3 separate regions of the Homo sapiens genome follow, and regions 1 and 3 are each linked to region 2. The links come from fine-mapping of genetic effects on gene expression. A gene starts in region 2. Each other region holds a variant in brackets. All regions are shown on one strand. Distances are from middle to middle.

Region 1 (4,245 bases), 26 kb after region 2:
GAGCAAGTTGTGGTAGTTGGTGTCTTTCAGGAAATTTATCCATTTCATTTCAGTTGGGTTTACTGCCATTAAGTTGTTTATAATATAAAACATTATTATGCCTTTAATAACTGAAAGATCTTTACAAAGCATTTTGATCTAAAGGAAAGGGGGAACACATCCCATTAAAAATCTGTGATATACAGCTAAAGCAATGCTTAGAGTGTAATGTATAGCACTAAATGTCTACATTGTAAACAAGGTCTCAAATCAATGATCTATAGTTGTACATAGGAAACTAGAGAAAGGAGATAAAATAAAACTCAAAGTAATCAGGGAAAAGGAAAATTTAAAGATAACATTAAAAATAATAAACAGGCAAACAGTGATTCAATAAAACCCAAAACTGGTTATTTGAGAAAAATAGCAAAATTCATAAACCTCTAGCCAGACTGATATTGGGAATGAGAGAGAACACATCACTCCAGATCATGTAGACATTTGCAGGAAAATAAGAAAATTATAAACAAGTTTATGCCAATAAATTTGACAACAATGGACAGATTCCTTGAAAGAAACAAATTATCAAAGCTCATTGAAATGGAATAGACAATGTGAATAGCTCTATATCTAATAAAGAAGTTAAATGTGTGGTCTCAAAAGAAAACTCCAGGCCCAGGTGACTTCATTGGTGAATTCTACCAAACATTTAAAGATGAAATATTACCAATCTTACATAAATTCTTCCTGAAAATGGAAAACGAGGGCCTTTTTTTAATATCAGGACTTCAACTGATTAAATGAAGCCCACCTACAAACTAATCCGGAGTAACAAAAGGCAACAGATCAGTGGTTGCTTTGGGGCAGGATGGGAGGTAGCGAGGGATAAATTGCAAAGGAGCACAAAGAAAATTTTTGAATGATGGATATTTTATAATACTAATTGTGGTGATAGTTTCATGGATTTCACATATGTCAGACATCAAATCGTATAGTTTAGTATGTGCTGTTTATTATATATCAATCATACCTCTATAAAGCTGTAAAAAATAAAATATTTAAAAAGAATCGCCAGGTGCGGTGGCTTACACCTGTAATCCCCGCACTTTGGGAAGCCAAGGCGGGCAGATCACGAGGTCAGAAGATCGAGACCATCCTGGCTAACACGGTGAAACCCCGTCTCTACTAAAAATACAAAAACAAAATTATCTGGGCGTGGTGGCGGGCGCTTGTAGTCCCAGCTACTCAGGAGGCTGAGGCGGAAGAATGGCGTGAACCCGGGAGGCAGAGCTTGTAGTGAGCTGAGATCGTGTCACTACAATCCAGGCTGGGTGACAGAACGAGACTCCGTCTCAAAAAAAAAAAAAAAAAGAATCTATGATATCATATATACACATTTAATACATAAAATAGAATTATGTATACTGTGGATATATCCCCAAATACATTAAACTAGTATTTTAAAAATTGTACCTTTTTTGACAATAAGATCTGGAAATGTTAAGTTTTGTTCTTTTATTTCTTTGACTTTTCCAATCTGTCCCCTCTTTACCACAAATATCCACATTGCTATGGAAGATTTCAGATCGGTACAAAAAATGCAAATAGAACAGTTAATGAACTCTTTTTAGACTTCAAAGGTAGTTTCTTGAACTATGACTACATACAACAACATGGGTGACTCTCACAAAAAGAAGTAAAAGAAACAATTGGTAAAAGAGACCATACTATATAATTTCATTTATATGTAGCTCAAAAGCAGGCAAAACTAATACATGGTGTTAAAAGTCAGGATATTAGTTACTCCTTTGGTTACAGTGACTAGAAGGAGTAGAAGAGCTCCTTTTGGGTTCTGTTTTTGTTCTGTTGCTTGATCTGGGTGGTGGAATTTTTAATAAAAATTTACATTTCATAGGCAAATTCTTGAAAATCAAGAGCCTAGACGGATGGGGGGATTAGAGTGTATGCATTGGAAAGAGAGCAAAGAGAGAAGCAAATTACCTTGCCCACCTCCCTCCCACTTTTCATCTATCCTGGGTAATGAGAAGGAGAGTTATGTGATAAGACTTTATAGGAGACAGTATAACTTGTGTTCAAAGGGATAACGTGGCATAGAGAGGCCTCAGATAAAGGAGAGATTTCAACACAGAGAGAATGGCAAACACGAGGAAGACTCCTGCAAGCTGAGCCAAGGCATTCAGAGAGACCATACTTGCCTTACACTAGAAACCATCACATCTTTGCAGGGAAGCCAAGTCAGCTGTGCTCATCACTGCCTAGAGATGGATGCCTAGTAAACAGCTGCCTATAAACCCTTTTCATTTTCGAGTAAGATGCTGTACATGACCTGAAGTTTTGCTGAGTCCTAGCCCTTGTCAATAACCCAGGGCACTATAAAGTCCCCTTAAGGACAGGGTTAGATTCTTTATTCTTGCTGATTTTGGTTAGGAGGGGCTTTAGGCTGGGCGCGGTGGCTCACCACCTGTAATCTCAGCACTTTAGGAGGCCAAGGCAGGCAGATCACTTGAGCCCAGGCGTTTGAGACCAGCCTGGGCAACATGACGAAACCCCATCTCTACCAA[A/T]AAGTACCAAAAAATTTGCAAGGAGTGATGGCTCATACCTGTACTCGCAGCTACCCAAGAGGCTGAGGTGGGAGAACCACATGAGCCCAGGAAGTCGAGGCTGTGGTAAGCTGTGATCACACCACTGCACTTCAGCCTGGGTGACAGAGTGAGACCCTGTCTAGAAAGAAAGAAAAAGGAAAGAAAAGAAGGAAAGAAAGAGAAAGAAAGAAAGAAAGAAAGAAAGAAGGAAAGAAAGAGAAAGAAAGAGGGAGGGAGGAAGGAAGGAAGGGAGGGAAAGAAAGAAAGCGAGCCTTTAAAGGGACGTCACAGAAATGAGATGGGTAAAGGAAGGCAGGCAAGTCTTAGACCTGGATGGTAGCTGACAACTTTGGGGAAGAAGAAAACTTTTTTCCCTGACTCTCCTGGTCTCTGAAGTGGGAGTGATTGCTGTTGGATGCAATCACCTTCTCTGGCTGACTGCCATTAAAGTGAAGCATAGAAGATACTTGCCAGGGCTTTCCCTCTGCAGCAGATATTGTTTATAAATCGGAATATGAAACTATCTCATTTATTTGTCCAATATTCTACTGGGAAGGAAGTAAATGGTTGATTTCAGTGGAGATACACTAGCACTTTCATAATATTATAATATTATATCAGTAAACTTTTAGTAACCTCATAGATTTCATTGTCTGGTTTTCTTAGAAATGGATTCAAATCTCACTGTAGACTTTTGATAGTATTGGTTCTCAGCTGCTAGAATATTTTCTGAATTTATGGGAAACTTGCAATCTCTTATTCTGATTTTGTGGTAGTCAAACCATGACTAAATAACAGGTTGAAAAAATTCATGGCAGTCTACATCATGTAACCATCACCATCACCTTTTCTGCTCTGGATGAATAATGTAGGAAAATTATCAGACAGAAATCAAGATTGCTTACAAATAAAGAAAAGTCTATACAGGCTCACAAACATTTCTTGAGGAAATGCATGTTCAAATAATGATCTAACAAAGAAATTTTTTAAAGTCTGTTTCCCATATTGAATCCTCAGAAATGTCTCTTTTGCTCTGCTAATTGCAGATTTGGGGAATATGCTAGTACCAATCAAAGTGACCACTAAAATTACTGGGGAAGGCAATAACTGGGGTCAATCATCTTATATATTAAGGAGCTTCAGTTTTCTTTTGTGTAAAATTAAGAGTTTTGGCCAGATAAACTTTAAGATCCCTTCCAATGGGTAACTTTTTCCCCTCACTTTATTTTAGATAAAGTTTTCTTACATTTAGCCAAACAGAGGCCTAGGGAATCTTTTTTGTATCCTTTGCTTAATCAACTTCAATGGAGTCTTGAGGAGAAAAATAAAATATTTAAACTAATCCTAACACTAACAAGTAATTTCTGCTATGGATTCATAATGGCCAGGCTTCCCTGCAGAGAGAAAAGGAACATTTGTAATGCTCTTGGGAAAAGCTTTTGTTTTAGTCACAATGATAGTGAAAATTTCACTTCTGAAAAAAAAAAAAAAGAAAAAAAAAAGTGTGCCCTGGCTTTTCAGGCTTTGCTGCTATTGAAGAGCATGGTTTCTCTCAAAAGGGGCTAATCTGCAAGGCTTGCTTGAGAAGAGTATAACAAATTGAATGGAACCAAATGTCTGGGTTTTTTAGTGAAGAACAATGCTATCAGGAGAGAGCATTTTA
Region 2 (4,245 bases):
GAAAATATAGGCATATTAATCAGTAAATGCAGAATGATAAATGCTCCATCAATATGCACTTGTTGTAGTGAGGCCACCGAGGAGGGTGCAATCCTCTCAACCTGGGAGGAGCAGGTAGGACTTCAGATGTCATCCAACTCAAAGATATAGTGAGGGACTTGATCAAACATTTGCCAAGACCACTATGAGTTAAATGAATAGATTAGGCATTTCTCCAATGTTGCAAGCTTCGAATCATATCCAAACTCAGAACAACATAGCTTGGTCATAATGATCCCAAGGATCCTATTGGCCATTGTCTTTGAGCCTCAAAGGAACATATTAAAACTCCATAATACCCTTTTGATCTATTCTGAAGTTAAGTAGTGAATTTACATGATGATGACACAAACACTGTAAAGGACCTCTGGGTTACTTGTTTATAAGCTAGTATTTCCTGAATCAATTTTTCTGATCCCTAGATATTTGGTAGGTGAAGTCATACCTATATATCCCCACACCCTAGAACAGCATCTCCAACTTATTTTTCCCTCCTTGTCTTTTAGTGGGAGCCACATCAGTATCCAAGAGGAGATCCAGAAGCCTCTCCAACCAGGTAGGGACAGTTATAGATTCCAGACCTCAGCTATGGCCTTTGTTACAGAGTACAAATGTTATATAGTACAAGTTTATTGTACACATCCCATTGAGTCTCTGAGCTTTAGAATTTTCTTGTAGAATTTAACAGTTTTTTCATGCCGTATTTACATATTATTGCTAGTATTTAGAATTTTCTTCTCCAAATGTATAACGTTTATTATTGCATTTTTTGTATCCACTAAGTGGAAAATCATGCATTAGATATTGTAGAAGTAGATACAACAATGAACAAGAACTGGTCCTGACCATGAGAGGAACTGATGATCCAATGGGGGAGATAGACCTGCACGTGTTTAATAAAAGGAAGTGGCTATTCCGGTTTCTTTTTGATGGGCAAGCATTTTGCAAGGCCTTGGGCTATGTGTGTGCAAGGCTAAGCCAGTTAGTTAATTGGGATTTTTTTAAAAAGGCACTTCACTGGGGGGAAAAGGAACATAGAGTTGGTTATTGTCCCCTTGCCTATAATAAAAACCTATTATTTTTAATTTTTTAACTGGGTTTGCGGTTAAATCTCACAGCCCAAGAGATTTGCCACTTCAGATGGATTCCATACACTTGCATTTAAGTATGCAAAAAAATTCCAATTATCCAGCAATTTAACCAAATTATTGGTAACTTTTCTAAAACAAAAAAAAATTGTTTCCCTTGTTTTGGCAGCAATTTCAGTTACAGTCCTTTACTTTCTACTCAAGAAAATAGTTTCAAAAAGTTGATGTTTGTTGCTAAAAGAACTATTTTTATGAATAAATATAAAACTAAGAAGTTATGGTGTCCCTTTTTTAAAAAATGACTCATCAAAAGAAATAACTTTTTCCTTTCTCTTGTAAGAGAAAAAAATTAATCTCTTTTAGAATTGCAAACATATTTCCTTGATGGAGAAAATCAATTCACATGGCATAGTCGTTATTTATCCAGTTCAAAAACCAGAGTAGAATTTACTACTCTGTCTCCATTTTTTCTCTCCCCACCCCCTTAACCCACATTGGATTCAGAAAGCTTCATTCTGCAATCAGCATTGTCCTTTATCTTTCCAGTAAAGATAGCCTTTTGGAGTCGAAGATGAGGAAAAGCCTGTATTTTATAGTCTTGGAAGTGTCTTCTTTTGCCAGGACAGAGAGAGGAGCTTCAGCAGTGAGAGCAACTGAAGGGGTTAATAGTGGAACTTGGCTGGGTGTCTGTTAAACTTTTTTCCCTGGCTCTGCCCTGGGTTTCCCCTTGAAGGGATTTCCCTCCGCCTCTGCAACAAGACCCTTTATAAAGCACAGACTTTCTATTTCACTCCGCGGTATCTGCATCGGGCCTCACTGGCTTCAGGAGCTGAATACCCTCCCAGGCACACACAGGTGGGACACAAATAAGGGTTTTGGAACCACTATTTTCTCATCACGACAGCAACTTAAAATGCCTGGGAAGATGGTCGTGATCCTTGGAGCCTCAAATATACTTTGGATAATGTTTGCAGCTTGTAAGTTATTTCCCTTCATCTGTTTCAAATGTTAGCATTCAATTTTAGCCCTGGTTTTGGCTTCAGTCAGTTTTGCGATAGTAGTGAAGTAAAGACACTAGGATTTTAAACAGTAGGAAAAGTTAATTTAGTCTAACTTTTAATATGCAATTGAGTTTTGCTATATACCATTGTACTGTCATAGTTAGAGCTGAAAATTGATGTTTTTGGTATCTTTTTTTCCAAAGGCAATTGAGTAATTTGGATTCTGTCTCTAGTCGGTCTGTCTCTTTAGTTTCCTATACTTGACAATGAGGTCAAACTTAGCAAATAACAAAACAGCTTTGATAAATGGGCATCAAGGTTGGAACTGAGAATTCTCTCTACTGAAGATGATTCCATAAACTTTTTTGGCAGTGACTTCGGTGCTTTTTGGCTACCTTGCAGTTAGTTTGAAGCAGCTTAGGAAAGAGATCAGTCTGATCATATTTTAGACATTATACAGAGAAGAAGGAGGAGAATACTAGACAAACTAGTGGTAAATTTGCTTCTGTCTTTTTTTGCTTTTGCAGCTCAAGCTTTTAAAATCGAGACCACCCCAGAATCTAGATATCTTGCTCAGATTGGTGACTCCGTCTCATTGACTTGCAGCACCACAGGCTGTGAGTCCCCATTTTTCTCTTGGAGAACCCAGATAGATAGTCCACTGAATGGGAAGGTGACGAATGAGGGGACCACATCTACGCTGACAATGAATCCTGTTAGTTTTGGGAACGAACACTCTTACCTGTGCACAGCAACTTGTGAATCTAGGAAATTGGAAAAAGGAATCCAGGTGGAGATCTACTGTGAGTGCTTTAGAAAATCTTTGTTTTTCTCTCAATTTTACTTTAAAATCACTTTTTAAAAATGATATTTTAAAAAAAGTTTTAAAATGGATATTCATGTACAGATTCTTGGCTAAAGAACATACAACATCAGGAAAGCTAGGGACAGCTAAGGCCAACATGAGAGAGAGCAGGAATCCAAATCTTGGCTTCTATTTCTACCTCTGCCACAAACACAGTGACCATGTATAAGACTCAACCTCTCTGGGCTCTGGTTTCCTTAGCTGTAAAATGATCATTTCTAAGTTTCTTTTTGTTTTATTAAAAAATATTTCCATTTGATTACATCCTTACATGTTTACTTGCTTATGTGTCTGATTGATTTATGAATTCCATCCTTCAGGGATTTTCTATTCATTTATTCTTATGCAATTTGATGCTTAAAATTAGTTTAAACATTAAGTAGATCTATAATTAGTAATATGTATTAGTATAAAAGTGTTCTTCTTAGACATAATTGTTAATATCTGGAAACATTTCAATCATTTGACTTTGGTGTTGACACATTTAGGATTTTTTTTTGGTTTTTTTGGTGCCATGAAGCCTTGGTGCTCAACCGCTCAACTTCAAAGATATTTATATAATGAACTAGATTTGCCTCATGAAAGTGAGTGGATGTCCCTAGTTTACCAGCCTGACAAAATGCATCCCACTCCATTCTCCATTCAGCAAACAAAGTTAGCAAGAGGAGTAAAAAACTAACCAGACATAAATCATTTGCCTTTTGTTACTGATGGCCTCTCTTTCTAAAAAACTGAACCCATTTACGGTCATGTCTTCATGAAGACCTCATTTGATTATAATTACTTTGGTTTCGTTTTATTGTACCGGAGCTCAACTTTTCCCAGTAACCTTAATTGATTCTGCAACAAACCGCATGTGTTGCTCAAGCTTCCCAAGAAACTGTGCTTGGCCGGCTGCTTTCAATTATGCTGGTTGTATGTGCATAGTTTATGTCTGTGCAGCCTCCCGAGCTCCTTGAAAGCTTCCCTTATGTAAATACAGGGAAAAGTAGCAAGTTCTTATGTTACCTGACATCGAACTGTGTGGATTAGAGGAACATTTCTTACAGAATATGAGGGACAGAAATTATTGCTGGAAAAATGAAAAATACCATGTTTCTTCACATAGGAAAGAATTTCCAGCTCCTTTGTCTTTTGCCCACTAGTACCAAATAGTTGAAGATTTAAGAAAGAGAAATGAAGACGCTTCTGGTTTTAATTATCTTGCCTGAGGTTTTTCTCCAAGAGTGTCTGTTTCTCATTATGTATAACA
Region 3 (4,245 bases), 96 kb before region 2:
TTCATCCAAAAGTGTGAGAAGCCAAGCAGCTTTTATCACCCAGGAGACAGCTGTAACCTGACCTCAATTCATGCCAAAGAAGCCTGAGGAAAGTGCCCTGGAAGTGAACAGCCTGCTCATGACTCAAGGAACTCAAAAGTCAGAGTTCTGACCAGTATTGTTGGGGTGGGTAAAAGAACTTCACTCCCTCAGATCTGAAAGTGTCCTTGCCAGAGGAGAGGGAGACCTTATTTCAAGTGTGTTTGAATAAACATGACATACATAAACTTGATTTTCCAGGTTTTGGAGAAAGCATACATTTGTCCTCTGCATCATGAAATAATGTCCTTGGTGGCTCCTTTCAGGGCCTGTGCTGCACTCTCCTTAGTGACTATTAGCATTGGAGTTGGACAATTTAAGGGCAGGAGTGGAGACCTGCTACTTATAAAGGATGACTACACTTATTTAGGGATACTGCTCACGCTGACTCTCAGAGCAATTCTTTTGTTCCAACAGCTGTTCCCAGGGTAGGGTAATATTGGAACAGAGGCTTATGCTGCAGTATCCATTGAGTGGGACTGAGGCCCCTTCAGTAGCTGAAAATCCCCACTTCAGTGCTACTGCTTCAGCTACTGCAGCTCTTACTGTCTTCAAAAACAATGGTAAGGATTCCTTTAACCTCAGAGGAGGAATTAGCTTTTTGCAGAGACTACAAAGAATCCATAGGATACAAACATTTCTATAGTCCAGGAAGGAGTCCCACATATAAAAACAAAACTGTAATATATTTTATAAGTGATTTGCCTAAATATGTGAGGCTGTATTCACTCAGTTTCTCAAGAAGCATTTCTTGAGAAGCTACTGTGTGCCAGAGCCTCCTTAGGGGGCAGGAACTGCTTATTTATCTTCATATCAACATCCCTAGGTAAGTGCCTAGCCCATCGTATGGGCTACAGACTATGCAATGCTATTTCCCTTAGCCCCACCAGAGTTCAGGGTCAGACTGATGGGCAGGACTATGAACAGATCTTCTTTCTCTCCTTGAAGGTAACTAACCTTCCATGGGACTTGAAGCTTCAGATTTTGGCCTTAACCAAGTCAACTAGCTCAAGTCAGAGGGGCAGTGATTATTTGAATTGCCAAGGTATTACCTAATGAGAATCTTTGTGACTAAGCTCTTAAAGTTGAAACTTAAGTAACATTAGCTGAAAAACTTGTTGGATAAACATTGCTACTCCCTTGAAAATTCCGGGAGTTCCAGTTTGGTTGCTGACCATTTTTTACCATTTATCTATTTGTTTAGCACTAACGTTTCTTAAGCTTCCAATGTATATAGAATGCTATGCTGGGTTGTGGGAAATACAATGAGCTATGCTCCCTGTCTGCAAGTCGGTCACATTTTAAGTGGGGGTGCAATAAATGACAGATTCAAACCACTGAACAATTATTAACAGAGAAAAGCAACTTTTATGGGCAAAGGCTTTCGGCAACTCCAGGCACAGTCTCACCCAAGGCCTTGATTGTGGCACTGCTTCTGTCACAGAGAATAAGAGTGAAATGTTAGAAGACTGTTGAAACACTGCGGAGTTAATGTTATGTTCCTTTTCATCTTTGGGTCTTTGTACATGCTGGTTCCTTGTCTTCCCACCACTACCCCTATATCATTTATCTAATTAAAACTCATAAACATGAATGAGAAGCCCTTTTTGACCACCAGCCTACAAACAGACACACAGACACACACA[C/CACACACAGACACACAG]ACACACACACACACACACACACACACACACTGCGTTGTCCTTCCATTGAGGTACCAACAGCACACTATAATTTCTCCATTATGATAGCATTTATTACAAGGTATTATGATTTCTGTTTAACTTCTCTGTATCCCTCCTGCCTGCTACATTGTAACTTCTGTGACTGCAGGGATATATCTGTTTTGTTCACCATTATATTGGCTAGCATGTAGCAGCCATTCAATAAATACTTGCTGAATGCATGAATGAACGGCTGAATGGCAGAACCAACATTTGAGTAAAATTTTCGTGTATTGTTTACTTTGTGCTATAACTTCCTAGGTATTTTATGGATCTTCTTTCTGTGGGGTTATATATAGTATAAATTTGTTGCAATATTATATTCTTTTTAAATGCCTCAGTCACTTGTTAAATTTAGTGCTTGTTGCAGAAGGGTATAATGTTACTGATAGGAAAGCCATAGTCTTGATCCCTATATCGAGGCCAAATGGCTTCTTATCTGGAAATCTCTGCCTTAAATTGAGCAGTATCTAGATTAGATGTTTTGAAACTATGTATCACTCACTATGGTGGGCAAATAGTTCAGACAGACTAGGAGACGGGATATGAGAAACTTAGAATAAGCTACAAGAAGAATTCTAAAGACACATGACCCATTAAATTCCTTTTTCATTGAAAATCAGACCAAAATCTGTGGCAAAAACAGAAAACGTATTCCGGAAATATGGCTGTAGAACTGAAGACTAAATAGCAAGCAGTGTTTAATCTGAAGTAATGAATGTTATTTCAAGGAGCAAAGAAGCTAACACTTGCAATAAATCTTTGTTTTGAAGTATCTTTCTCAAAGGTCATCAAAATAAGTTTTAATTTAGATTCCTAAATCCAGTTTCTGCTCTGTTAGTTATTGGGGATTTTTTGAATAAATAATCTACGCAGAACTGTGGACTCTGCTCTGCTTTTTCAACCCCATGGTGTGGTCATCCAGAAAGGATTTCTTCTCCGCTCTAGGCTTAGAAATGGGGTACCTCCTGCCTGATGTATCCTATGCTTTCCAGAACCTGAAAGATTAAGATGAATCATTACAAGTGAAATGACCCTAGACAGAGAACAAAGAGGGCTGGCACATGTTTGCTGTAACATTCCGGGAGAGCTCTTCATCCCGTTTACATGTTCTTGAGAGGGTGCCTTCCGTGCTGTGATGAATGAGCCACCCAGACCTCCCGCTACCACACAGCAATTGTTTAGTCAGAGATCCTGTGCATCTGGGTCTTTTTTTTAATCAGCAGGTTCTAAATAAAAAACAAAAAACAATAACAAGCCCACCCTCTCTGAATATGACTCTCTGACTCTCTTGTGTTTCTTGTTTACATTTTATTGTGCGAATGTGATTCTGCTTCTTAGCCTAGTGCATTTGGATTTGTTGTTCACACTGAGCATAAATTGCCAAACACTCAACTTTAATCTAATTGTACATACTATAAACAGAAAATGTTGACGTTAAAAGCATTTCCATAATCACAGATTGGGTGTATGGATGAGCAAGTGGATGAGTTAGGCCTTTTGTCATCTCAGTCCATAGCTTGATCCTTCAGGTATTCAAAAGGAAACGGGGACTGTCTTCCACTGATGACCTCACTGATGATGAGGTTCATCTGCCACCATCTATAGTGAGTGAAACTTTATGGTGTAGTTGTTAAGTCTCAAATTCAGAGAGACTTAGGATCAAATCTCACTCTGCTACTTTCTAGCTATGTGACCTTGGGAAAGCCACATGGTGCCTTGAAGACTCAGTCTCCTTAACTATATTATAAGAATAATAATATTCCCTATGCCAAAGGGATCCTGTGAGATAATAACATCTTAATTGAGTTAAATTATTTAAGAGTTAAATGAGATAATGGATAAAAATCATGGCACATTTTGAGCACTTCATAAATATTAATGATAACGATCCTTATTTAAACGTGCCCTGCATTCTAAAAATGAGAAGTAACTTTCTGGCTGAAACCAACCCCTGAATGGCAACAGAGAAAGCTGTTTCAACAGGGTTGAGAAAAAAGCTGGGGGATAAAGTAATGTTTCTAATCTTAGAGTTTAAGAGAAAATACATTTTTTAATTCACTTGGTAAATTAGAGATCTTTTAGGGACACCAGAAGAAGGCACTTTCTGAAAGAGTTAAAATGATTTCCTTAGAGTAAACAAATCTCTCTCATAGAATTTTTGCTTAGACTAAGTTGATGGGACATTCATTAAGAAATAAACTTTTCATCCTCGCTTGGGTAATGCAACCAGGGAACGAGTAAATATCCCGGGAAAGCCAACTTGCTATATGCAGGTACTATTTCTTAAAAATGTTATTTTTATCTATCAAAATAATATTACTGTTATTAAGTATCATTGAGGTTCAATCCTGCGACAGAAACTGTACTTAGCTATAGGGAATCAAATATGATTGTGACATAGTTCTACCCTCAGGGGTTTTAAGTGGGAAGATAGAATATGCCATTAAAAAAAAAGTA

Which allele goes with the higher level. Alleles are on the strand shown, and positions count from the first base shown. SD is a standard deviation of normalised expression in the study named. Not every link is listed here.
For the expression in monocytes after interferon gamma of the gene that starts at base 1,922 in region 2, CACACACAGACACACAG is the low allele of the variant in region 3 and C is the other (moderate effect, 0.74 SD a copy in Fairfax 2014).

What was found. PIP is the estimated chance that this variant, and not a neighbour inherited with it, causes the effect.
Region 1: its variant is the best candidate, but not a certain one, in a credible set for the expression of VCAM1 in whole blood (TOPMed, PIP 0.85).
Region 3: its variant is the best candidate, but not a certain one, in a credible set for the expression of VCAM1 in monocytes after interferon gamma (Fairfax 2014, PIP 0.90).

The regions. Positions count from the first base shown.
Region 1 is chr1:100,743,747-100,747,991 of GRCh38, forward strand. No RefSeq gene overlaps it. Among named protein-coding and RNA genes, the nearest start is that of VCAM1, 26 kb to the left of the region's middle. RefSeq lists enhancers at 2,220-2,309, 2,400-2,449. The variant A/T (reference allele first, on the strand shown) is at 2,562.
Region 2 is chr1:100,717,821-100,722,065 of GRCh38, forward strand. It overlaps VCAM1 (vascular cell adhesion molecule 1), which reads left to right and starts at 1,922. Exons shown (of 9, transcript NM_001078.4): 1 at 1,922-2,104; 2 at 2,656-2,931. The coding sequence starts at 2,041.
Region 3 is chr1:100,622,234-100,626,478 of GRCh38, forward strand. No RefSeq gene overlaps it. Among named protein-coding and RNA genes, the nearest start is that of LINC01349, 23 kb to the right of the region's middle. RefSeq lists a silencer at 348-646. The variant C/CACACACAGACACACAG (reference allele first, on the strand shown) is at 1,725.